Linked DNA regions of Homo sapiens. The protein of the gene in region 1 binds, or shares a complex with, the protein of each later gene. Each region holds a gene or a part of one and is shown on either strand. Other genes may lie near its edges.

Evidence for each region.
Region 2: ING3 (region 1) and VPS72 share a complex: the UniProt entries of both Homo sapiens proteins name them as parts of the nuA4 histone acetyltransferase complex.
Region 3: ING3 (region 1) and EPC1 share a complex: the UniProt entries of both Homo sapiens proteins name them as parts of the nuA4 histone acetyltransferase complex.
Region 4: ING3 (region 1) and MBTD1 share a complex: the UniProt entries of both Homo sapiens proteins name them as parts of the nuA4 histone acetyltransferase complex.

The regions. Positions count from the first base shown.
Region 1 is NC_000007.14:120,953,749-120,960,781, reverse strand, and holds part of ING3 (inhibitor of growth protein 3), read right to left. Parts: intron 5,224-7,033; coding exon 5,158-5,223; intron 4,623-5,157; coding exon of another isoform or gene 4,611-4,622; exon of another isoform or gene 3,802-4,610; intron 1-3,801. UniProt on the Homo sapiens protein: Component of the NuA4 histone acetyltransferase (HAT) complex which is involved in transcriptional activation of select genes principally by acetylation of nucleosomal histones H4 and H2A.
Region 2 is NC_000001.11:151,175,797-151,180,223, forward strand, and holds the end of VPS72 (vacuolar protein sorting-associated protein 72 homolog), read right to left. Parts: intron 2,350-4,427; coding exon 2,205-2,349; intron 1,269-2,204; coding exon of another isoform or gene 1,236-1,268; coding exon 848-1,235; 3' UTR 508-847; downstream 1-507. UniProt on the Homo sapiens protein: Deposition-and-exchange histone chaperone specific for H2AZ1, specifically chaperones H2AZ1 and deposits it into nucleosomes.
Region 3 is NC_000010.11:32,288,153-32,295,185, forward strand, and holds part of EPC1 (enhancer of polycomb homolog 1), read right to left. Parts: intron 5,586-7,033; coding exon 5,440-5,585; intron 5,043-5,439; coding exon 4,836-5,042; intron 4,493-4,835; coding exon 4,344-4,492; intron 3,483-4,343; exon of another isoform or gene 3,305-3,482; intron 3,171-3,304; coding exon 3,011-3,170; intron 1-3,010. UniProt on the Homo sapiens protein: Component of the NuA4 histone acetyltransferase (HAT) complex, a multiprotein complex involved in transcriptional activation of select genes principally by acetylation of nucleosomal histones H4 and H2A.
Region 4 is NC_000017.11:51,257,034-51,264,435, forward strand, and holds the start of MBTD1 (MBT domain-containing protein 1), read right to left. Parts: upstream 3,017-7,402; 5' UTR 2,823-3,016; coding exon of another isoform or gene 2,802-2,822; exon of another isoform or gene 2,766-2,801; intron 2,174-2,765; 5' UTR 2,110-2,173; intron 1-2,109. Other genes in the region: UTP18 (U3 small nucleolar RNA-associated protein 18 homolog), read left to right, coding at 3,552-3,893, 6,241-6,353. UniProt on the Homo sapiens protein: Chromatin reader component of the NuA4 histone acetyltransferase complex, a multiprotein complex involved in transcriptional activation of select genes principally by acetylation of nucleosomal histones H4 and H2A.

The DNA.
Region 1 (7,033 bases):
ATAGATTTTTGTGTGTGTTAGTCAAATTTCACTAAAACGGCTACTAAAATAAACTGTCAGTTTCTTCTACCGGAACCCTAAAACAAATTTCTTCATTGATAATATGTTGATAATATGTAGTTTGGTTTATTCCTTAATAAATGAGGTGACCAGTGCAGTGATGGTCACAGGAAAAAAAATGTTTACTACTGGTTTAAAAGTAAATAAAATATTTCAATGAAAAAATACAACAAAATGCAACGCCATATAAAACACTGAGGGATAAAATCAAACATAATTGCATACTATGGTGATGTACCATAAATTCTGTAAAAGTAATACATGCTTATTTAAAATTCCTATAATATAATGTTTAAGCAAAGGCATACCTACACAAAATCTCTTTTAAGGTCTATATTCCACGCCTCTGTTTAAAGTCCTTCACTGGCTTCCCACCGCTTTAGACTAAGAATCACTCTCCTCCTAGACTGGCTCGCAAGGCCCCCATGCATTAGCTCCTGCCTGCTTCCTTTCATGCTGCTCCTTTCCCATTACAGACCACAGACCAACCACCCCGGCCTCTCTCTTGGTTCAACTTGCCAAGTCTTTTCCACTCCAAACTTTGCCCTTGGTATACCACGTGCCTGAAACATTCTTTCCTTAGCTTTTCCAACAGGTGGTTCTTTCTTATTTTCCAAGTACCACCTCAAACGTCATCTCCTTAGACTACATTCTTAACAGCCTTCGCCAGTTATTCAATTGTCTCTCCCTTTCTCCCCCTTCCTCTCTTTCTACAATGTTTATTTCCTCCTGTGTACTTATCGAAATCTAAAATAGTCTTTATTTAATAGTTTGCCAGGCCAGGTGTGGTGGCTCACGCCTGTAATCCCAGCACTTTGGGAGGCCGAGGCGGGCGGATCACGAGGTCAGGAGTTCGAGACCATCCTGGCTAACACGGTGAAACCCCGTCTCTACTAAAAATACAAAAAATTAGCCGGGCGTGGTGGTGGGCGCCTGTAATCCCAGCTACTCGGGAGGCTGAGGCAGGAGAATGGCATGAACCCAAGAGGCGGAGCTTGCAGTGAGCCGGGATAGCGCCACTGCAGTCCAGCTTGGGCGAAAGAGTGAGACTCCGTCTCAAAAAAAAAAAAAAAAAAAAAAAAAAAAAAAAATGTGAGGAAGTGACAAGGAGTATAGGGTGACTTTCAGTGCCCTAATCTGAATGACTACAAGGTCAGTGTGGTTCATGTGAGATTTAGAAACAAAAAGTTGGTGATGGGGCAGGGGAGGGTAGTTAGAGAAGAAAAAGGAGATGCTTTGAGTTTTAAATTTCAAAACACTGAGTTCTAGGGCCTGGGAATAGTCAGCTAAGATTAAAAGACTCAAAGAAACAGCTTGGGCTTCAGGAATAATTAACGTATAATTGTTAACACTAAGAGAACACATGGAATTGCAATAGAGGAGTGTCTCTCAACTTGGGTGGTGTGCAAAGGTTGGGGATAAAACTTGCATTTGAAAGAACAGGTCTTTACGCTGTGGAATTTGTTCTTCCTGGCCCTCTTGGCAGGTAGAAGAGGGGAAGACAATCACCTTCATGTGAGAACCACTTGAAGAGTAAGAAACCATGTAGGTCAAGGACAGAACCCTGAGGAACACCATCATTATGAGCTGTACCCAAGAAGGAGACTAAGAAAGGTCACAAAGGTGGGAGCATCTAGAGCAGGCAGTCACATGGTAATACAAGGTCAAGAATGGCAAGACAAAACGAATGGCAATAAGCATTAAATTTACCAATAGGGTCAGTTAAAAAGAATTGAAGCTGTCTGATGAATTTAGCAATAAAGAATTCATTAAATGAAGTTATAGAGGATTAGTAAATAGAACCCCAATTGCCATAAATTTAGGAATAAATTGAAGGTAAGGGAGTGTCAAAGAGTCTGAATGAGAAATTAAGGAAGACTACACTAGCTAAAGCAGAGTCACGGTCACGACACGATTTATATTAGATTGCCTGAGTTCTTTTTAAATATGAGGAAGACCTGAGCATGTTTAAATGCTGTGGTATAGAAGCCAATAGAAAGAAAAGAGGCTAAAGATGAAAAAGAGAAGGCATAAGTGATGAAGCAAAGATGCAGCAAGTAAAAACATGCCCTAAGGCAGCAACAATGTGGAAGGTACCTGTAAGAAAAGTGGTCAAGAGCTCAACCAGTCTCTTGATTGAATAGGAAAGGGCTGATAAAATAGGAGGAAGTGTAGACGCAAGAAGTATCAGAGGCAGGGCAATTCCAAGTGATGATCAGGTTCAGTCTGTGGCGACTGAAGTGGATTAGCATTTACAAAAGCCAAAGAAGTAGATGACTAGGTAGTATAAGATGATTGCAACAGAGAACTGTGAACCGGGTACCAGTTTTTCAATCTGAGCCTCACCTAGAAGCCATTAAATTATAGTGATAAGAGGCAGAGGGTAACTGAGATGATTATCACTAAGTCTGAAAGAGAAGGGATTTTTTATATTAAGGATATAATGTTCACCTGAAATAGGATTAAAGTATTTAAAAAGAAAGGCAGGGAAGGAGAAAGGGAAAAAGAAAAAAAATAATAAAAAGGAAGAGGGTAGAGCAAAGGTGGGGGCAGAAAAGAAAGGGTGGGGGAAGAAAAAGAAGAAAAGACAAAAAGAAGCCTCAGAGATACTAGGAGAGTGAGAGACAGCAGCTTCCACTTGGCAGAGTTGAAAGGGAAGCAGTGGCTTCAGGAAAATAGAAAATTCCAGTTCAGGAAATGAGATGGACTGAGTTCTTAAAGAAGGAGCAAATCCTACTATCTGCCAAACTAATAGCATTGTATGTATTCTAATGCAAACCCTTCAGTAAGGTATAAATTAATATTGCTTTTTTACAGCAGGAAACTGTGGTTCAAGATTAAATAACTTTTCCAAAGTCATGGTGTCAGTGAAATGGCTGAGCTAGGGTTTGAACTCACATCTGCATGGATCCATTATGGACACTTGCTTTCTGTTGTATTTCTTATGCTTTATTAAATTTACTACCTCGCCTTTATTACTTCACTCTTTAGCCTTGGAATCTATCCCTTCTCAATTAATTTCTGAATTTGTACTTTCCTTCTGTTTATGCCATTATCTCTGAGTGAAATGCTTTCCCCTCAATACAATACCTAATTCAGGACCTTGACTTTCTAAACAAACTCTGTTCAAAACTCTTCCTATACCCTCTAAGAAATCAGTAAGTAACTCTGCATGACTTACTTCAATGTTTTTCAGTAGACACCCCTTAATATTCAACTGGTTAATGTTTATTACATGTTTCTGTATGGATTCTCCACTTTAGTTTGCAGGTATGTCTGCCCCACAACAGTAGTTTACAGACACCTTGAGGACAAGAGCCATTTCTAGTATTACTTTTTTTTTTTTTTTTAAGACAGAGTCGCTCTCTGTCGCCCAGGCTGGAGTGCAGTGGCGCGATCTCTGCTCACTGCAAGCTCCGCCTCCCGGGTTCCCGCCATTCTCCTGTCTCGGCCTCCCGAGTAGCTGGAACTACAGGCACCCGCCACCAGGCCCGGCTAATATTTTTGTATTTTTAGTAGAGATGGGGTTTCACCATGTTAGCCAGGATGGTCGCGATCTCCTGATCTCGTGATCTACTCTCCTCGGCCTCCCAAAGTGCTGGGATTACAGGCGTGAGCCACTGCGCCCGGCCTAGTATTTACTTTTTATTCCTCCATTAGACCCAGGTACAGCTCCCTTTTTTCAGGCACAGAGTGGATGAACAGTGTGGTTTTTAAATAAGAGATGAATACACACACACACATATTTAAAAAGCATATATTTATGTTATATTTTTTCTAAATACACAAAATATCTTTAGTAAAGGTCTAACAAGCAATAAAACAACAAAATAATAAACAAAACAAAGAATAGAACCAAAGAGCTATATGAATTAAAAAGCAGGCAGTCTCTAAATAAGGACTGATACATACAGTCATTGAATATGAGGAAGAATGTTACTAAACAAATTAGTCTAGATTCAAATGTAAATGCCTTTTTCTAAGTTTATAGACATAATTAAAGACTGAAACAATTAAGACCTTTTTTTTTTTGGTTTTTATTCCACAGTAAATCAAGCTACAGCCTATTCTACCTATCTTTAGGCAGTGTCTTTTATGAAATTTTTTTCAGAATAACTCTATGAACAAAAGAGCCCAGGTTGTTAGCACCATTAAAATGTGTGTACTACATAAAAACAACTAGACATTTTCCATGGCTCTACATGACACATTTTCAAGTTTGTGGTATAAGCATTTACAATTCACACCATATGTGGTGTTCACCTTTTATCTTGTGTCCTGCTCACCAATGACATTTTACTTACACGTACTTGTTCAGTAATAAATCTGTACCCAGGAAAGACAACATAAGTATGAAATCTATACACTGAAGTTAGCCAAAAGTGAGCATGTGTTTTCTGCTTTAATTTACTTTAATGCAAAAACAGAAATGACTATTTCTTAAAGTGTATATTTTAGGAGAAGATGTTTCAAATGAAAAAGAGCACCACAATTGCATCAATATGAGAAATAGTGAATATTCTATCTATCTTCTTGGTGTTTTCAATCTTTTAGAAGTGCTGCTGCAAAAAAAGAATCTTGTTTAAAGTTTGTCATCTTGTATTGCTTAAACAACTGACACAGCTGTTACATACGATCTTTTAACATCACTCACATAAACACTGATTCAAATGATTCTTCTTCATTTTAATCAGACTACCAAGAACTCTTGTCAAAGCAGTCTTCTTAGGTGTATTTTACCACAGAAACAATCTCAAAATGATGTATAAGGCAAGTAAACACACTACCTTAAGAAGACAAGGATTAGTAAAATAAAGTTAAACATTAATTCTTGTTTAAAAAATATCTAACATCAGAAACCACCTTACCGCCGTATAGACTTGCTAAAATGTACAGTTCTCACCACATTAACTAACCACTCTGACTTTTCCACAAAGAAACCATAAAATGGACACTGAAATGTCAAATTAGATGTGATCAAGAGAGCAATACTTCAGTTTTAGTTGCTTCTTCCTACTACATTTAAGCCAATACAATTTAAGATATAATCTGTTATTCAAGTACTTATGGCACAGTATGCACATTACTTTTACTTACCAAGTCATATATCTGGTTTGCCAACTGAACCTTCTCATCTGCATCTTCCAAAGCTTTATAGTAGTCCTGAATGAAAACATTTTCATTTCAAAAATAAATTAATCATTTTAAAATATTCATATGCAGGACATACAACTGCATTTTCATTATCATATCTTGTTATCACAGTCATCCTACCTTAGTAATAAAAAACCTGTTAGAGGCCAGGGGCAGTGGCTCACGCCTGTAATCCCTTTTGGAGGCCAAGGAGGACGGATGACTTGAGGTCAGGAGTTTGGGACCAGCCTGGCCAACATGACAAAACCTCATCTCTACTAAAAATACAAAAATTAGCCGGGCATGGTAGTGGGCGCCTGTAATCCCAGCTACTCAGGAGGTTGAGGCACAAGAAGTGCTTGAACCGGGAGCCAGAGGTTGCAGTGAGCCGAGATTGGGCCACTGCACTCCAGCTTGGACAACAGAGCGAGACTCTGTCTCAAAAAAACAAAAAACAAAACAAAACAAAAACCTGTTAGAAATAGGGTGGGGATGGTATAGGATTAGAAACTATGCACAATGGCCAAGAGTAAAAGGGAGATGTTCAGAATTTCTAGAAAGGATATAATTAAAAGTAAATGCCATTGTAAGTCTAGAAAAAGCTATATGAGTTAATGAACAGTATTTAAAATAAAAAGTTAACTAAAATTGATCTAACTTGTAAAGTACATTTGCATTCCATTAAAAAATTTTTGTTAAAGTTCAGCTATTGAAAGGATTCTGATCTGCATTTCCCCATTTTCCAGTTGTTCTATAACTCCCACTTTAAATTAGGTATATATTCATACAACTCAATCTGTATTTTAGATTTTGCCTCAACTTATTAAATTTTTTTTTAAAAAAGAGGGGGAAAGAAGATGATACTATGAATTTCCATGGAGTACTAGACTTTTCAGGGTATACTTAAGGTGCACTCCACAGGTTAAAGAAATGATTAGTGACTCTGGGATGTGGATATAACATGTCTTTACTCACAAACACATGTCCCTCCAGGTATCTTCCAAGCTAGGACCACTTCTGTTATAGATTATGATTTTTTTTTTTCCTAAGAGAAACAATCTTCCCTCCATGTGGTAGAATAAATAACATATCATAACAGAACTACTCAATTTGTAGTTTCCAAATTTCTTCCTTAGTGGACCCTTTTTTTTTTTTGAGACGGAGTCTCACTCTGTCACTCTGTTGCCCAGGCTGTAGTGCAGTGGCGCGATCTAGGCTCACTGCAACCTCCACCTCCTGGGTTCAAGTGATTCTCCTGTCTCAGTCTCTCGAGTAGCTGGGATCACAGGCGCCCACCACCACGCCCAGCTAATTTTTGTATTTTTAGTAGAGACGAGGTTTCACCAGGTTGGCCAGGCTGGTCTCGAACTCCTGACCTCAGGTGATCCACCCGCCTCAGCCTCTCAAAGTGCTAGGATTATGGGTGTGAGCCACCACGCCAGGCCTCTTAGTTGATCCTTGAACAATTCTATGAACATTGGGTTTAGGAAGGCATTATTATTCAGAAATATTAAGATTTAATGTCACACAGCTAAATAGCAGAATCATGACCAAACTCAAGTCTTTTAAGTTGTTTTTCCAATGTATCCATCCCTAAATGAACTCAATCATACTTTCAAAGCAAACTTTGAGATGTACGTGTATACTCATTCAATTCTGGAAGACAGCTATAGCCACTATAAAACTAACAAAACCTCAAAGAATTCTATGTTTCCAGACCAATTCGTGTGCAAATTTAGAGTTTAAACTAGAAGGCTTTCTTAAATTCCTTCTAACTTTTAAGATTTCGTTCTTCTGTGGGTCCACTAATTTAAGTACCTAGCAATATATAAAATATTCT
Region 2 (4,427 bases), on another chromosome or scaffold:
GTGGCAGAAATATACACTGAGTGACAGAGACAGGGACACACTCCACATCATTCCCCATAGGAGCCACTCTTCTCCTCCCATCTCCCACCGGGCTCTCATCCATAAGCCCCCTGTCTTCCCCACCTACCAGTCCTGGTGGTCACCTCCCTTCTCACCTCCCCTGTGTCAGTAGGTCTGTCTGTTCTACTAGAGCACTGTCCCAGCAGCAGGAGGAGCCCGGTGCCGGGGGAGAGGGTGGGGGAACAGTGAGCTCAGCATTTTATTATTTTAGCTCTGGCCAGGTGGGGGGTAGTGGGAGATCACATATACACAGCCCCCATACCCTGCCCAGCCCTGAGAGCCTCTAGTGGTCATTAACAGCCATGGCATCTCTTCCACTTCCCTTCATACAAGCCCCAGTCTGAGACATATGAGTTCGACTAGAATCAGCCAGTTCCTCCTTATTTGGTGCCTGCTGTATTCAAAACAGTGAGTGTAAAGTGATAGGAAGGTCAATACAAGGATGTGTTTTGGTGTGCAATTTTCAGATGTTTATAATTTAGTTGGAGGAATGAATACAATTTAGAAAGGACAGCTCATAATAAATGCTATCGAATAAAGACCCAAATATATGCAGGTATTCAAATACTTCTTGCTCCCAACCCTAGACTGGACACCAGACAAAAGGGATCTTTCTATTTTATTAGATTAAAAAACACAACGAAACCTGTAAGAACTAGGGGAAAAGGAAAAAGAAACAGATTAGGCAAAGATCAGAGATGACAAAGGGGAGAAGCAGGGAGAAGAAACGGAACAGCAAGAGCCCCAATCAGGGCAGGAAAGAAGTTTCTGAGGACTAGACATCTCTTCATTTAATGACAATTTTCTGGCGCAAGGCTCGGGGCCCAGAGCCAGGGAGGGGCTCAGGAGGTGGCGGGCCGGGGCCCAGGGCTGAGGCAGTGGGCGGCAGTCCATGGGCAGTAATGTACTTCTTGTAAGCCTCACGAATGATCTTGAAGGCTCGAGCAGTGGCATAGGGTATGTCTGTAACAGGGTCCCGGTATAGGGCTGGACGATGGGTCACTGGACAGACCTCACGAACAGGGACTTTTGGGGGCCGCCCTTGGGGGAACCATTCCTCGAAAGTTGCATCATCACTAAAAGTGATGAAGGTACGTGAGCAGCGAGCAGGGGGGTTGACGGGTCCAGTCCCAGCATGAGGAGTCAATGCAGACACCGAGGGAGCAGGATCAAGTCTGAGGACAAAAGACAAGGAAAAACACAAAGAGCTGAGGAGAGAAGACAACAGATACAGAAAGAAGGAAATCAGGCTGGGTGCAGTGGCTCACACCTGTAATTCCAGCACTTTGGGAGGCTGAGGCAGGCAGATGACGAGGTCAGGAGTTCGAGACCAGCCTGACTAACAAGGTGAAACCCTGTCTCTACTAAAAATACAAAAATTAGCCGGGCGTGGTGGCGGATGCCTGTAATCACAGCTACTCAGGAGGTTGAGGCAGGAGAATCACTTGAAGCCAGGAGGCGGAGGTTGCATGGAACCAAGATCGTGCCATTACACTCCAGCCTGGGTGACAGAGCAGCGAGACTCCATCTCAAAAAAAAAAAAAAAAGAAAAGAAAGAAAGAAGGAAATCAGAGAGATGAGGAAAGAGAAAAAGGAGGCAGGGTGTTGGGAACATTCTGAGGAACGTACTAAGTGACTGATGGGAAAAGAAAGCTAGGCTAGAAGGAAAAACAGGAAAGAGAAGAACAGAGAAGCTAAAAGAAAAAGGAATAAGAAAGAAATAAGCTGGGCTGGGCGCGGTGGCTCACACCTGTAATCCCAGTATTTTAGGAAGATGAAGCGGGACGATTACTTTAACCCAGGAGTCTGGGCAACACAGCGAAACCGTCTCTACAAAAAATACAAAAATTAGCATGTGTGGCTGTACTCCCAGCTACTTGGGAGGCTAAGGTGGGAGGATCGCCTGAGCACAGGAGGTGGAGGTTGCAGTGAGCCGAGACTGCACCACTGCATTCCAGCCTAGGTGACAGAGCAGCATCATGTCTCAAAAAAAAAAAAAGAAAAAGAAATTGAGCTGAAGGGAGTTAGGAATCTGAAAGAAATCTCCAAGTGTTAAGGAGAGCTGTGTGAGAAAAGCAAGCAAAATGGGGCCAAGAGAACATGAGCTGAACACACAATCTCTTTTCCTCTTGAGATTCACTCACCCTTCTATGTCAACGTTCTCTTCCTTGGGGCCTGGCTCCCCAACAAGTGGCACTGTCACTGAATGATAGGTGATTATGGGCCCGGGGCACTTCCGCTTCTTATGAACCTGCTTCTTTTTATCAGCCTCGAGCCGCTCATATGTCTCTTTAGGGTCAAAGGAAGAAATGAGGGGATGATCAGAATGTCCCTTTTTCCCATATCCCAGTACTGTCCCACGATCTCTCAATTATCTTCCTGGCTATCTAGTCACTGCCAACTACCAGAGACAACTATGGAAGTCCCCTAAGGCCGTCTGGCACCTCCCATTTTGTAAGTTTTCTGCTTATAAGTTTTTTCTTGACATCCTCTCTGCTCATTTCTCAAGTACACCTGGGCCCTCTATAGTACCTCAGAGTTGGAAGGTACCCTTTGATGAGGAGCTTATTTGCTTTCCCAGATACCAAAATCTCCTCTACAAATGCCCTGTCAATTCACTCCTACAGCTGGGTGTGCTGGCACACGCCTGTAATCCCAGCTACTTGGGAAGCTGAGGTGGAAGGATCGCTTGAGCCAGGGAGGTGGAGGTTGCAGTGAGCTGAGATGGCACCACATTGCACTCCAGCCTAGGCAGCAGAGTGAGATCATATCTCCAAAAAAAAAATTAGTAAGGTAGGAAATTATATTTAAATATAGAGATTTCTGGTCGCTCTTAAACAACAAGAAAATCTCGCAACCCTGGGTCTGCATTCTTACAGGGGAACAATTAGCTGAGCTGAGTAACTGTTCCTCCTTTCAGGCACTCCTCTCCAGTTCACCACCATCCCTCTGGCTGGCTGCACACTTCATGTTACCTGCCTGGTCTCCGTGATACTGCTCCATGGCGATGCACTATTGGTATATATGTCTCCTCCTTAAGGGCAGTGACTATAACTCATATTGCCTAAATATTATCAGGGTGATACAGCATTTTCCACATTACAGGCACTCATTAAATATTTGTTAATGAATAAATGAATCAAGGCTGGGCACAGTGGCTCATGCCTGTAATCCCAGCACTTTGGGAGGCCGAGGTGGGTGGATCACCTAAGGAAAGGAGTTCAAGACCAGCCTGACCAACATGGTGAAACCCCGTCTCTACTAAAAATACAAAAACTATCCGGGCGTGGTAGCACATGACTATAATCCCAGCTACTTGGGAGGCTGAGACAGAAGAATTGCTTGAACCTGGGAGGCAGAGGTTGAAGTGAGATTGCATTATTGCACTCCAACGCGGGCAATAAGAGCGAAACTCTGTCTCAAAAAAATAAATAATTTTAAAAATTTAAAAAAAAGGGCTGGGCTTTTTTTGGTGGCTCACACCTGTAACCCCAGCACTTTGGGAGGCCAAGGTGTGCGGATCATGAGGTCAGGAGATCAAGACCATCTTGGCCAACATAGAGAAACCCTGTCTCTACTAAAAATACAAAAAATTAGCTGGACGTGGTGGTGAGCACCTGTAGTCCCAGCTACTCGGGAGGCTGGGGCAGGAGAATGGCGTGAACCCAGGAGGCAGAGCTTGCAGTGAGCTGAGATCGCGCCACTGCACTCCAGCCTGGGCAAAAGAGTGAGACTCCGTCTCAAAAAAAAGAATCACCATGCACGGTGGCTCACGCCTGTAATCCCAGCACTTTGGGAGGCTGAGGTGGGCAGAGCACCTGAGGTCGGGAGTTTGAGACCAGCCTGACCAACTTGGAGAAACCCCGTCTCTACTAAAAATACCAAATGAGCCAGATGTGGTGGTGTATGCCTATAATCCCAGCTACCGGGAGGCTGAGGCAGGAGAATTGCTTGAACCTGGGAGGCGGAGGTTGCGGTGCGCCAAGATCATACCATCGCACTGTAGCCTGGGAAACAAGAGTGAAACTCCATCTCCAAAGACAAAACAAACATACGAAAAAAAATGAATCAAAATATTCCTCGTCCCCTTCCTCTGAATGAACTCCAGATTTCTGTGTCCTTAAATATGGTTATGATGAACACAATTCCCTAAAGTCTGACCATAAAAGAGTACTCTGGAGGCCAGGTGCGGTGGCTCATGCCTGTAATTACAGCACTTTGGGAGGCCTAGGCGGGTGGATCACCTGAGGTCAGGAGTTTGAGACAGACCTGGTCAACATGGTGAGACCCTGTCTCTACTAATAATACAAAAATTAGCTGGGCGTGGTGGCTTGCACCTGTAATCTCAGCTACTCGGGAGGCTGAGG
Region 3 (7,033 bases), on another chromosome or scaffold:
CCAAACCATAAGGCATCTCTCCACAATTTCTACTGTTGTATTTGACAGGATAATCAAATCAAAAGTTGGCCATGGCAATGCAAAACATTATTTAAAAGCTAACATCAGCTGTCAGCTAGGGCAGTGCTTGAGGACTACATTATTATCTATTACTTTTTTCTTTTTTTTTTTTTTTTTTTTGAGATGGAGTCTTGCTCTGTCACTTAGGCTGGAGTACAGTGGTGCGGTATCAGCACACTGCAATCTCCGCCTCCCAGGTTCAAGTGATTCTCCTGCCTCAGCCTCCCAAGTACCTACTAATTCAAAGCCTTATGCTATGCTTAGGTGCTATTACTACCCATTTACAGCAATTTGCGCTCGCTAATTTTTTGTATTTTTAGTAGAGATGGGGTTTCGCCATGTTGGCCAGGCTGGTTTCAAACTCTTGACCTCAAGTGACCTGCCTGCCTCTACCTCCCAAAGTGTTGGGATTATAGGCATGAGCTGCTGCACCCGGCCTAAAGTAACTTTCAAGTATGAGTGGCACATATAGAGGAAAGCAAATAATAGGATAATTAATCTTAAAATATGATAACTGAAGGATAACACTAAAGTAGTCCACAAAATCATGTAGGGCTCAGAGGGGGGGACCACATTAAAATAGTTAAGAGTGGGAGGTCGGGTGGGGTGGCTCATGCCTGTAATCCCAGCACTTTGGGAGGCCAAGGCGGGAGGATCATGAGGTCAGGAGATTGAGACCATCCTGGCTAACACGATGAAACCCTGTCTCTACTAAAAATACAAAAAATTAGCCAGGCGTGGTGGCATGCGCCTGTAGTCCCAGCTATTTGGGAGGCTGAGGCAGGAGAATCGCTTGAACCCAGGAGGCGGAGGTTGCAGTGAGCCAAGATTGCGCCACTGCACTCCAGCCTGGGTGACAGAGCAAGACTCTGCCTTAAAAAAAAAAGTAACAGTGGGAACAATCCCATTAAACTTTAAAGATACATTTAGAACTAATATATTACAAATGCAGGACATAAAATTTAAATAAATGCAAAATTTAAATAAAAACTTACATGAGTAAACTAAAACAGTATTTTGGGGCACAGCTCTAACTTTCCAGATCATTGAAGAGAATAACGAGAATAACTCTACTCTCCCTCCCACCCTCCCCTACGTTTTTTAAAAATCAAAATGTCCATGTTAACAAAGTGGGAAAAAAAAAAGTCCATGTTTTTTCACAAAATGGTCTGGTCCCTGGCACTGCTTTAAATAACTCCCCGCCTCCCCCTGCAAAAAAAGTCCAGGCTGGGGAAATCATCATTCATTCTAACTGTGTGGCAGGTTGTACATTCAGGCTTGAAGGTCTGTTTACCACAATAAAAAAAAAACCTGAGTGAGCATGATATTAAATGATGCAGGGGAGATAAAACTGATGGCAAATTTTCCCATTCCTCAAATTAAACTGGTATGGTAGATGCAAAGTTTCATGAAATTTTTTTTTTTTTTTTAGACGGAGTCTCGCACTGTAGCCCAAGCTGGAGTGCAGTGGCGCGATCTCGGCTCACTGCAAGCTCTGCCTCCCAGGTTCACGCCATTCTCCTGCCTCAGCCTCTGAAGCAGCTGGGACTACAGGCGCCCACCAGCACGCCCGGCTATTTTTTTTGTATTTTTAGTAGAAACAGGGTTTCACCGTGTTAGCCAGGATGGTCTCGATCTCCTGACCTTGTGATCCGCCTGCCTCGGCTTCCCAGAGAGCTAGGATTACAGGCATGAACCACCGTGCCCGGCCATGAAAAATTTCATACAAAAAATGCATAACGTACTTTTTCCTCAGATGTACACTTTCCAAGAAAGTGCCACTTAATTAATGGCTCTCCTTTATTTACCTCAGTTTTCCTTCACTAATTTTATTTCCTCTCACAAATTTTATTCTTCACAAATTGTGACTTAGTTAAGTACTAATTTGTCAAATATTTCCATTTCTAAATCATTATATTACTATTAAGATATCAAAATTCCCTCTTATACACTATTGTGTCCACAAAAGACAGAAAAACTCATTTGAGGCTGGGTGCAGTGGCTCACGCCTATAATCCCAGCACTTTGGGAGGCCTAGACGGGCGGATCACCTGAGGTCAGGGGTTTTGAGACCAGCCTGGCCAACATGGCAAAACCCCACCTCTACTAAAAATACAAAAATTAGCCCAGCATGGTGGCGCGTGCTACCTGTAGTCCCAGCTACTCGGGGAGGCGAGGCAGGAGAATCGCTTAAACTCGGGAGGTGGAGGTTGCAGTGTGCTGAGATCCGGCCACTGCACTCCAGCCCGGGTGACAGAGCAAGACTCTGTCAAAAAAAAAAAAAAAAAAAAAAAAAGAAAGAAAGAAAAACTCATCTGATCAGGGAGGATTTCATGTCTTTCTCCCTAACTCTCCATATTTTGTATGAATTATTTCAATACTTCATAATCCTACAACTTGTAAAAGGAATATTTTTCCTTTTATCAGATATAGTAACAAAAGCTTCCCTTTATAAGGAAGAGAAACAAAAATAAAATTTTAATTATAGACTTCTGCTTTTCTTCATATTGTGGCACAATCATTGCAGTATACATTAAGGTGGGGTATATATGTATTTTTCTTTTTTTATCTTTTTTTTTTTAGATGGAGTCTTGCTGTGTCACCCAGGCTGGAGTGCAATGGTGTGATCTTGGCTCACTGCAACCTCCACCTCCTGGATTCAATTAATTCTCCTGTCTCAGCCTCCCTAGTAGCTGGGATTGCAGGCGCATGCCACCATACCTGGCTAATTTTTTTGTATTTTTAGTAGAGACGGGGTTTCACCATGTTGGTCAGGCTGGTCCCGAACTCCTGACCTCAGGTGATCTACCCACCTCCGTGTCCCGAAGTGCTGGGATTACAGGCGTGAGCCACTGTGCCCGGCCTATGTGTGTTTTTCTTTTTAACTTTCATTCTAATGATAAAATACCATCCCATTATTAGATACTATTATCACAAAAACATTAATCACCTTATTAACTTTGAACTCCTTCACATCCATTGCTTCCTGGTGTTTAAATTGACTGCTATTAGTAATAGGGATGATGGGGATGGCATAAGTAGGTTTCATTGGCTGTCTCTGTGCCATAACCTCAGACATGATCTCTCCATTGTAGTCGCCCAAATTATACCTAAAATTATACAAATGAAAGTTTAAAATTATATATATTTAAGGAATACAATGTGATGTTTTGATATACATTTATACTGTGAAATAATTACCACAATCAAGCTAATTAACATATCCATCACCTCACATAATTACCTTGTGTGTATATGTGGTGAGATTACTTAAGATCTACTCTTAGCAAATTTCAAGTATATAATACATTGTTATTAACCATGCTGTACATTAGGTCTCCAGAATGTATTCATTTCATAACTGTAAGTCTGTACCCTTTGACCAACATATAAAATATATAATTTTTATTTGTCAATTATACCTAAATAAAGCAGGAAAAAGAAGAAAATTTTGGAAAGTTAGTTTTATAAGTATTTATCTTTATAACCATTAATAACTAGCTGACTGAGATATAATTATAAACACCAATTACATTTAAGGCAAGATTGTAGTTAAACTTTGACTATTCAATTTCTCTCAAAGATTACATAATTCCTTTTGTTTCTTCCTTTTACTTTTTTGGCTTATAGCTTTATCATGGCATATAAATAGAGGATTGTTGGGAAAAAATCAAAAGCTGGAATTTTAATGTAGCAATTTTGGTGAAAGATTTGGTGAAGTTGAAAGTAATGCCTAAAATGGTGCTAAGGATCTTTCTGCTAATTAGAATTGCCTGGGCTTTAAAACTAATTTTTCTAAAAGTAATCACAAGAAATTTAAAAGTGGTTTTCTTTGGGGATAGGGACTAGAAATAGGGCAGAAGTTTTCTTTAAGTTTTCATTGTGTACCTTGCCAAATGCTTGAGTGGTAAGATATATGGGCCTTTCTCCCTCTTTCTTTACCCTTTTCTATTTAACAATCCAGTGTTTTAAATTTTATATGCATTAAAAAAGAAGCAGTACTATCAATTAACTCAAGTCCTACATGCAACTCAAGGACCAAAAAAGACCACTTTGAAATGGAAATACTTGGTATGTTTTAACTTAAGTGAATCCAGTCACTTTTAAAGAAAATAGAGGAAAACATGTAAAAGTATAAAAAGTATCATACCACATATTTAAAGTCTCTATTATTAAAAAAAGATATTTCTGTAATTAGATTATTGCATAGGAAATAAATTAACTCAATATACAAAATGTTAATGGCACTATACTTCCTCTAACATTATTAAAATATACATTACCTCTTTTCCATAATTTCCAGTGTTAAGTGCAATAGCTCTCTTTTACTTTTTTCTCTTCTTTTTATCATCTCTAGAATAGTAACAGCTCGACTTAGATCTCGTCGCAGCTTAAGCATTTTTTCGTAAGAGGCTTCATCATTTTTGCGATTCTGCAAATGTGAAGTTGCTTGTTTAATGTTAGTAAGTATTTCTAACTAGTGGTATAGTTATTGACCCATAAAATTTATATATTTGAAGGGTTAAATTAGAATTTAAAGACAATAAAAGGGAGCACAGATCACCAGGAAATCAATTTTGTATTGATTTTTAAATGGATTAACATTAAAATATAACATTAATAGCTGCATAATAAATCTTAAGTTCAATTTAAGTATTTTTCTTATAATTGGAAAGTCATATTTGAATATAAATTAAACCACAGTATTGAGACAGTCATAACTATAAATAATTTTTATTATATAATTATCAAAAAAATTCTTCAAATTCACTTACTTTTCGAGTCTGCATTTTTTCAGTACGCCTTCTAAAAGCCACATAAGGATCATTTGTGCTGGAACCATCTCGCTTCTCTTGTTTTACTGATGGAATAAGAGATGGCCCTCGACAGTTTTTTCTCTTTTTAATCCAATATTCATAAACTTCTCTAATTAGTTCATCATCTTCTTTTAGCAGTAGTTTGGCTTCCTGCAGACTGACTGGCTAAATGTAAAACCATTATGTCATTTTCATACAATACACATACAAGGTTCATAAGTATTTACTTCTAAATTTAAAGGACAATAATCAATATTACAACATTATTAACAAATGGGAAACTTGAGGAGTACATTATGCCTGTCAGTCACTGAACTAGGGTGCTTTATATACATTATTTCATCTTTACGACAATCCCAGGGCAACCAAGGCACAGAAAAATTTAAACATATTGCTCAAGATTACACAGGTTACTGATAAGCAGAGATGAGATTTGAATTCATACTTTTTAACTCTAAAGCCTGACTGATTACCCCCAACCTGCAATCTCACACTCTTTCCATACAATACAGTTCTTTACATAGAATATGTATATACTTGTTATATACAAATGAAGTTGTACCTGCTGACCACTGCCTTTTTCTAGGCGGTCAATCATCTCCTCAAATTGCAATGGGCAGATGTCCATTTTCTTTTTCAGTTTATTCACAAATACTTCATCTTCAGAATCCAAATCATAATCAGGCTGTTCAGCATCCAAACTAAAAGCTGACAGAAGGAACCATATGCAATCATTTACTGTGTGAATTCACCGACAAAAACTCCACAGATGTCTGCATAAAAACAAGACCTAGACTTTCTAAAGAAATAAGAAAGAATTCTTGGATTTTGTTTTCAGAGTCGCAAACAATCTAAGCTTAGATTTGTCTTACACATTTAAAGTTAAAGAAAGGAGATTATCTTTACTATGAATATACATATAAGTAATAAAAGACAATGGATGCGACACCCTCCAACCACTCCTAAAAGCAAATACACTAGAAGCCTATTAAGAACATAAAGCGATCATTAAAACTTATTTGGTTGAACCATGTGAAGTGCCATTTTTATAGCTCAAAAATCATCACATAGGCAATTTTTATAATATAAAAGGAGAAGGCCTTTAAGATTTTTTTCTATAATATTTAAGTCCTATTTTGTAGATTATTCAACTACTTTACCAAAAGCTAAGGGAGTGGTCTTTAAAGTTGAAGTGTTAGAAGCCACTACCAATAACAGTACAGGTTGAGAATCCCTCACCCAAAATGCTTGGGACCAGAAGTGTTTTGGATTTTGGAATATTTGAATACGTATAATGAGATTTCTTGAGGGTGGGACCCAAGTCTAAACACAAAATTCATTTTTTTCACATATACTTTATATGCATAGCCTGATGGTGATTTTATGTAATATTTTAAATAATTTTGTGCGTGAAGTTTTGACTGTGACCCATCATCACATGAGGGCAGGTGTATAATTTTCCACACGTGGAATCACATTGGTGCTCAAAAATTTCGAACTGCGGAGCATTTCAGATTTTGAGTTTTCAGCAGCTGTCACTCGGTGAGTATGTTCCTGCCTAGGAAGTTTGTTTCTCTACGCGAACACTGTCATGCTGATGGAAATGGGAGGATCTTAGATCTGCAAGAACCGCTGCTACTATCAAATGTTGTTTAATTACTTACCAAAATTAAGCTAGGTTGATATGAATATAAGCAAAATATTAAATAGCTTTAATATAAAAATTTGTCTCACATCTTTCCCTTACTTAATTCCTTCTACTAACATTACAGTCCACATCTTTAGAATGGTATAAGGCCCTTTTTTCCTATTCTCTCCAGTGTTATCAGTTCTTTATGATCTAGTAACATCAGATTTCATTGATTTCATGCAGTATGCTATTTCATGACTGCAGGCCTTTACAAAAATCCCTGTTTTTCTGCTTGCCCACCAAGGAGGCAAATGCCTATTTATTCTTTTTAGCACCCAGCCTGGTATCACTCATCTAGAATCCTTTTTTGATTTTTCCCCACCCAAGAAGTGGTTCCTAACCACTTTCATCTTTTTTAGTGGCTAAGAACCCACTTCACATACTTTATAATCTGCTTGTTAAGCATGCCTCCCTATTAGAATGTGTGTGATCTCTTTAGGGAGAGGCATGCCTTCTTTACTTCTGT
Region 4 (7,402 bases), on another chromosome or scaffold:
AATTTGCAGGTAAAAAAATCCTTAAGCCAAGGTTTATTAAAAAATAATGATTAAATCTATGTGCAATTTTTGCCTGAAATCAAAAGTCATCTTGCACAGTTAAGAATACTGTGGTGTTAGGAGAAATATCTTAGCTTGTTTTAACTATTGTAAGTCCTTTCTCTTTTATTGTCCTGATGTTTTTATTCTTTCTTGAATTTTGAAACCCTCAGACTAATGATACATAAGTGTGAAAGGTTATATCTTATTTAGCAAACATTTTAAAGATGAAAAGCTGAGAAACAAAGAGCAACCCAAAGAATGTCACTTGTCTAATTTTAGAATGTGGTTACTCAGACTACTGAGCACTCTTGGCTTTTAGTAATTCAGTGGTTTAGTATTTATCCTAATATGTTGTTTTCACTTTTAAACTATAGCTTATATTTTCCTTTGATCACTATGTTACATTTGAAAACAATTTAAAATGTTGTTTTAATTTTCAACATTATTGAGGGACCAAAAGCAGCACTAGAACATCTAGAAAGGTTTAGATAATAAGGTCAACATATAACCAGCTTTAAAGAATATGGCAGCGTCTTAAAAATAAAACCAGTTGTTCCTGTCTAGTATGTTTAGAATGCAGATGTCTCCAAAGTCAGTCAACTTAAGTCATGACAGTTCATGTTTAAAGTAAGCAGGAAAAAAACTTGGAACTCCTTATTAATTAAAATGTTAAAAACACTATTATTACACCTCTACTGATTCTTTTTCACAAGCTGAATTCTAATGAGTAGATTTAGAGGAAATATTTTATGTCAAACATTACATAAAGTTAGAAACTGGATGGTTAAAAAGCATGACGCAACAACGTAAGGCACTATGAATAAATACTTATTCAAGACAGATGTTGCCATAATTTGCAAGGTACTCACAAGCAATCAGTATGGGGTTTTAGATAGATAGAAGCTACTTGTTATTCAGAGAAGGAGGTGGTGCAAAAAAAAAAAAAAAGTACAGCTATTTTCTTTCTAAACACTCTGGTGTTGAGGTAAACAAATGAAAAATAAAATAACAGTCTAAGTCCACAAGAGCAAAGCAACAGTCTCTAAGTTATAAGAGGAGGAGAGAAAAATTGAGTCTAACCTTTTAAATAGGAGACTGGGGCTTAAGGTGAAATTTATTTGCTGGCTTTTAAATCACATGCATTATTTCTACATTATACCTGTTATGTCTTGACACCCACTTCACCACATTAGAGAGTAATAGGTATATCCAAGATTCTTAGGCCAATAAAACTACTTTTAGAGGCAGCATAGCTCACCAAATGAAGGAGAATGTTAGAAAAACACCCAGTGACAATAGTTTCAACTATCTCAACCACCCAGTGATAAGTACTGGTGCATGCTAATATAAGGAGAATTAAAAATATTGTAAACTCTAAACAAGTATTAAAATGGTTCGTAAATTTCAAATCTCATAAAAGATAGTTACTTAAAAAAAAAAAAGAAGGAGTAAAAGCATTTGGAAGAGAGGCCCTTGGAGGAAAGACTAGCTTCCGAGGAACACAGGTCAAATACGGGTGTGGGCGGTAATCATCTAATCATCCCTCTACCAGGTGATGCTTCTAACCACTTCAGTTTTAGACATCCTTAGAAGTGATTTAGGTAATAAACAAATGTGTTTTGTGATACAAGAACCACGGAGATGACGCTGAAATTTCTAACTTCAAAAAGATGCACTCCTAAGAGAAAACAGGCACGAAATTCCCATATTGTAATTCTTTAGCTTCCTGTAGAAAAACATCTTCAGGCATGTAAGCCAGCACACTTGACACTGACCCAGCAAAGTTTTCGGCTAGCCCTCACTATCTCTCAACCCCCCTTCCTCCACTTCCCTGCTGTTCTTTCTTGGCACACAAAATATAGGCCAATGAGCAGTGGGTGGGTGAGGAGGATGTGAGAGAAAATTTGAGAAGTAAAAAAAGGAGCAACTTAACCAGGACATGAATGAGACTGAAGGGTCTAATAAGGGTAGGCAGACAACAATTAGAACTACTGAAATATGGGCTTTCCTGGGCAGTAGTGAGCTCTCAGTGCTTTTAGGGGTGTAAGCAGGGTTCAGACTACCTACCACTTGTCAGAGAGGCTGCAGAGGGGACGGCTGCTTTGGATGACCTCTAATGTCTCTTCCGACTCTGAAATGTTAGGATTCTTATTTCACAAAGGAGAACGCAATGGTCACAGAAGTCCACCGACTTGAAACCCTTTTAAATATGCAGCCTTGGAGGCTGCTTCCCAAACACCACTCCCACCTCTCCCGCACGTGCCCACCCCGCCCCCTTTCAATATTTCCACCTCCACGTGCAAACCGCCTCGCGGCACTGCCCCCAAGGCAGATAGACACCTTCCCCTGCAAAGCAACGAAACTGTGCTCCCCCTCCCCGCCAAGAAGAGAGGACTACTCCACTCTCCCACCCTGGGTGGCTAAAAAAGGAAAAGTCTCGGATCCAGCCTTTCCCCCCTAGCCAGAGCAGGGGGCGGGGGCAGGACGCAGAGAAAAACTTTCTTCTCGAATTTTTCTTCCAAAGGGTGGAGGAGATGGAGAGAACCCCAACGAGTCCAAGGCTGACGGGGTGGGGGGAGGGGAACCCCTGAATCGTTTAACGGCTGGAAGGGGGAGGGGGGCTCCGGAGGTTGAGAGGGCGTGGGATGGAGAAGCAGGCCAGGGAGCGGGGTCAGGGAGCTGCGGGGTTCCTGGGGTCGGAGAGCTGCAGGCGTCCCCCCCACCTGGCACACAAAGCGGCTGCCGCGCTCGGCTCTCACCAGATCCTTTGTGTTTTCCATCAGGGCCTCATGGGTAGGGGTTGTCCGTGCTCCCCGAGCCCGCGGCGCCCCCTCCCCGGGCTGGGGGCAGGTGCCTCTCCCCGGGACTGCGGCGACTACAGGGGGCCCCCGGCTGGGCCCAGACCGGTGGCGGGTGCAGCAGCCCCCGGATTTCCCCCCTTTAACTCGGGTGGCCCCAGGATATCAACAACATTAGCATAGCCCTCCCTCCCCAGCGCGCCTGCGCCGTGACCCGCGCCCCGATTGGCCCACTTCCCTACATACCCTCCTCTCTCGCTTCCACCGTGGGACCCTCTGCAGGCTCCGTACTCCAAGGACCGTACCAAGACGAAGGGTGGAAAGCGTATTGGGGCTTGTGTCAAGTCAAGTGGTTACAGCCAAGAGGAAAAGCAGAAGTTCCATTCAGCCGTCCCAGTGTATAGTCGGGGTTTCTTGCGCTCCTTTCAATATGTTGCAGCTGCGAAATTGTGTTGGAAAAATTTTCCACTCCAGTCACGCCGCTTCCCCCTACACCCGGAAGATTGGCCCTCCCGGAGGAACTCCCACACGGGGCGGGGCTGGGTAGGGGAGCGGGAGTTACGTAGAGGGAGGGAGTGCTGGTCACGTGGCAAGAGGCTGCGCAGGCTCCTTCCGGCCCCCGGGGCTTCGGCGGCGGCGGCCCGCGAGGGGCCTGGGCGCATGCGCAGCGAGGTTCCACGTGAGCGCCTGCGTTTCTCCTCAAACCTAACGATGCCGCCGGAGCGGAGGAGACGAATGAAACTGGACCGGAGAACCGGAGCGAAGCCGAAGCGGAAGCCCGGAATGAGGCCGGACTGGAAAGCCGGAGCGGGGCCAGGCGGGCCTCCCCAAAAGCCTGCCCCTTCATCCCAGCGGAAACCGCCGGCCCGGCCGAGCGCGGCGGCCGCTGCGATTGCAGTCGCGGCGGCGGAGGAAGAGAGACGGCTCCGGCAGCGGAACCGCCTGAGGCTGGAGGAGGACAAACCGGCCGTGGAGCGGTGCTTGGAGGAGCTGGTCTTCGGCGACGTCGAGAACGACGAGGACGCGTTGCTGCGGCGTCTGCGAGGCCCGAGGGTGAGGGAGGCCGCGGCGCGCGGGCTGGGCGCACTCGGGCGGGGCGCGCGGTGGGCGGTGAAGCTCCGGGGGGCGGAGCCTGGGCGACCTGCGGCGGCGGGGAGCGCTCAGGTGGGAGGGAGCCCGAGAACGCGGGCGCGGAGGGTCGCAGCTGCGGGTCCCTCGCCTCCCTGCTCCAGACTGAAAGTGCCTGGAGGGCGGGGACCGCGTCTTTCTCCGCCCCTGGAGGCGCCGCTGCTCGGGTATCTGCTTTGCGAACTGTGGTCGTGAGCATCTTTCGCTGCTGCTCGACTCCGCTAGCCTCTTCCCAAACTGAGGGTGGTCTTTTGATCACCTGCCTCAGTTCCTTGTGATTCAGGAATTCGATTTCGTTGATGGAATCAATTCGTGGGCACGGGCCTGGGCATCTCCGTTGTAACTATGTCCCCATGTGACTATGAGACCCACCATGTTTTGAGAATGATCGTGTATTCCGTTCATTTAGCAAATATTGGTGAACCTGTTAGTTGCCAGATACCCTTTCTGGCAATGGCAAACCCTGCGTGATTGATCATACTTTTTGCACACATTTTGCTATCCCTTTAAATTCTATACCAGGCTTTTCTTGAGAGAGTCCCGGACATTGTTCTAGGCACTGGAGGAGACACAGCAATGGACAAAACTGACAAAAATCCCTGCCTTTTGGCGCTTGTGTGCTAGTGGCAGAGACAAGATAGAGGAGATAAACGAGTAAACTTCAGGTTTGTTGGTGACAAGTGCTGAAGAGAAAAAAGGACATTCGGGAAAGGGAGATGGGCGTGTGTAGAGGCCTGTGAAATTTTAGATAAAGGGGGCAGAGGAAAGCTCACCGAGAATTACCCAGGCCATGTTTATTACACAAATGCTGACCTAGTTAATGTCAGCTGCTTACCAGAGCCGCCTTCGGGTGCTTGTAGGAGAAGTGGCAGCAATCTTTTTGGGAAGTACAGAACTATTACTGGAAACATGCTGAACTGTGCGACGGTTTTGTCGTCTGGAAAAGGAACAGTGTACGGAGGTGGGAGCTGTTGGGTTTGAAGGCTATTAGACTAGTAGTAGAGCAAGTAGAAACCACTTGGACATTTCTATCATTGGTTTTGGGAAGCTCAAACTCACTTCAAGGGATATTCTGTGGTCTAGGTTTAGATTTTTTTTTTTTTTTAGACTCGCCCTGTCGCCCAGGCTGGAGTGCAGTGGCGCCATCTCGGCTCACTGCAACCTCCACTTCCTGGGTTCAAGCGATTCTCCTGCCTCAGCCTCTGGAGTAGCTGGCATTACAGGCGTGCGCCACCACGCCTGGCTAATTTTTTTTTGTATCTTTAGTAGAAACGGGGTTTCACCATCTTCGCCAGGCTGGTCTCAAACTCCTGACCTCGTGATCCGCCCGCCTCGGCCTCCCAAAGTGCTGAGACTACAAGTGTGAGCCACCGCACCCGGCCTAGGTTTAGATTTGATAGTATAAACTTTATGGTATAAATTTATAACTTTAGAATTTAGATTTAATGGTATATTTATTTTTTACTTATTTAGAGATACGGTCTAACTTTGTCACCCAGACTGGAGTGTAGCGGCACCTATTAGTCTTCCATCTCCCTTTTGCTAATAGTAACTGGTTGCTCTTCTTGTTGGTCACAGATAAATTACACCTGCACAATTCTCCGAACACTTTAAACTCAGAAGTCAGCTTCATCCTCCTAGGCTCAAGTGATCCTCCTGCCTCTGCCTCCCAAGTAGTTAGCTGGGGCCACAGGTGCACACCACACACCCAGCTAAATTTAAAAATTTTCTGTAGAGACGAGATCTCCCTATGTTGCCCAGGCTGGACTCGAACTCCTGGGCCCAAGCAGTCCTCCCACCTTGACCTCCCAAAGTGTTGGGATTACAGGCATGAGGCATTGCGCTCTCTGCTGGTATAAAGTTTCTTAAGGAGGTAGGGGGTCAAAAACAGATTGGGAAAATGGAGATATCTTTGACTCTAGTTTGCCTCCGGTCCTGTAATTTCTGTAGTTCTGACATTTCTCCTCCTTTTTTCATCTGCAGACTCATCTTTTGTTCTTGTCTTACTTGGTGTTTTCCTTCCTGCGTGTTGAGTGTTGACTTTTTCTCCTTGACTGTTCCATCTTGCCTCACCTGTCCAGTCGGTGCCATTCTCTGATTTCTCCATTTTCTGCCTCTGCTTCCAGCATTTGCAATGGTAGCATTCCATCCCATTATTTCATCAGAGAGTGGTAGAAAAAACATTCTATGAGCCATTTGGCTGTAAGGCCTATGTGTCTGCAGTCATGGGATAGGAAAATCTCAGTGCTTGAGGGTGTTTTGTCTGCTGTAGGTTCAAGAACATGAAGACTCGGGTGACTCAGAAGTGGAGAATGAAGCAAAAGGTAATTTTCCACCTCAAAAGAAGCCAGTTTGGGTGGATGAAGAAGATGAAGATGAGGAAATGTAAGTTGCCTAACTTTTCTTCTGAATCCCTCTGTACACTTAAAAAAGTTATTTTGCAGATTTTAAAATCATTCTTTTTACCAATTTGTGATTATGTGAAGATTTGAAAAATATTTGAAAGTATAGAAAAGATCTTTCATGGTTCCTGATCCCACCACCGAGGGAGAACTGCTGTTAGCATGTTGTCACACTTCTGTCTCAGTCTCCTCTTTGCTGTATACAGTAGCTAAGAGAATACAGTGTTTGAAGTCAGATCTCGATTTGCCTCCTCTTTTGGCCAGTTTCTAATTGACCATGGGCAGTTTGGAACCTACATTTTTTCCTTTGTGAAATGGGCACAATGATAGTAACTACATCAGAATTTTGTTGGGATTAAACAAAATAGTACTTGTAGAACTTTTAGCACAGTGCCTGAAACTGAGTAAAGGCTAAAAAGAAGGTAGCTCACACCATAGGAACTGTCATGGATGAGAATGTACTGTATGCTTGATTTAACATTTTGACTTTTTCTACATAAAGTTACTTTGTAAACATTTCTCCCTACTTAAAAAAAATAGACATTTTAAAATGGCTATGTTGGAGTCAATTATGTGAATTAACCATAATTTACGTGGCTATTGTTGGGTAGATTTTCTTTTTCCCTTTTTTTTTTTTTAATTATTTTTTTTGAAACAGAGTCTTGCTGTTTCACCTAGGCTGGAGTGCAGTGGTGCGATCTTGGTTCACTGCAACCTCTGCCTCCTGGGTTCAAGCGATTCTCCTGCCTCAGCCTCCCGAGTAGCTGTGACTACAGGCGTGTGCCACCACACCTGGCTAATTTTTGTATTTTTAGTAGAGACAGAGTTAGACGGAGTTTTGCTACGTTGGCCAGGCTGGTCTTGAACTCCTGACCTCAAGTATACACCCGTCTCTGCCTCCCAAAGTGCTGAGATTACAGGCGTGAACTGCTGTGCCCAGCCTTATTTTTCCCTTTAATGCAGATTATTTCAGCATTAATGTTTATCACCTCTTTATGTATAAACCTTTCTTTATTTTCTAATTTATTGCCT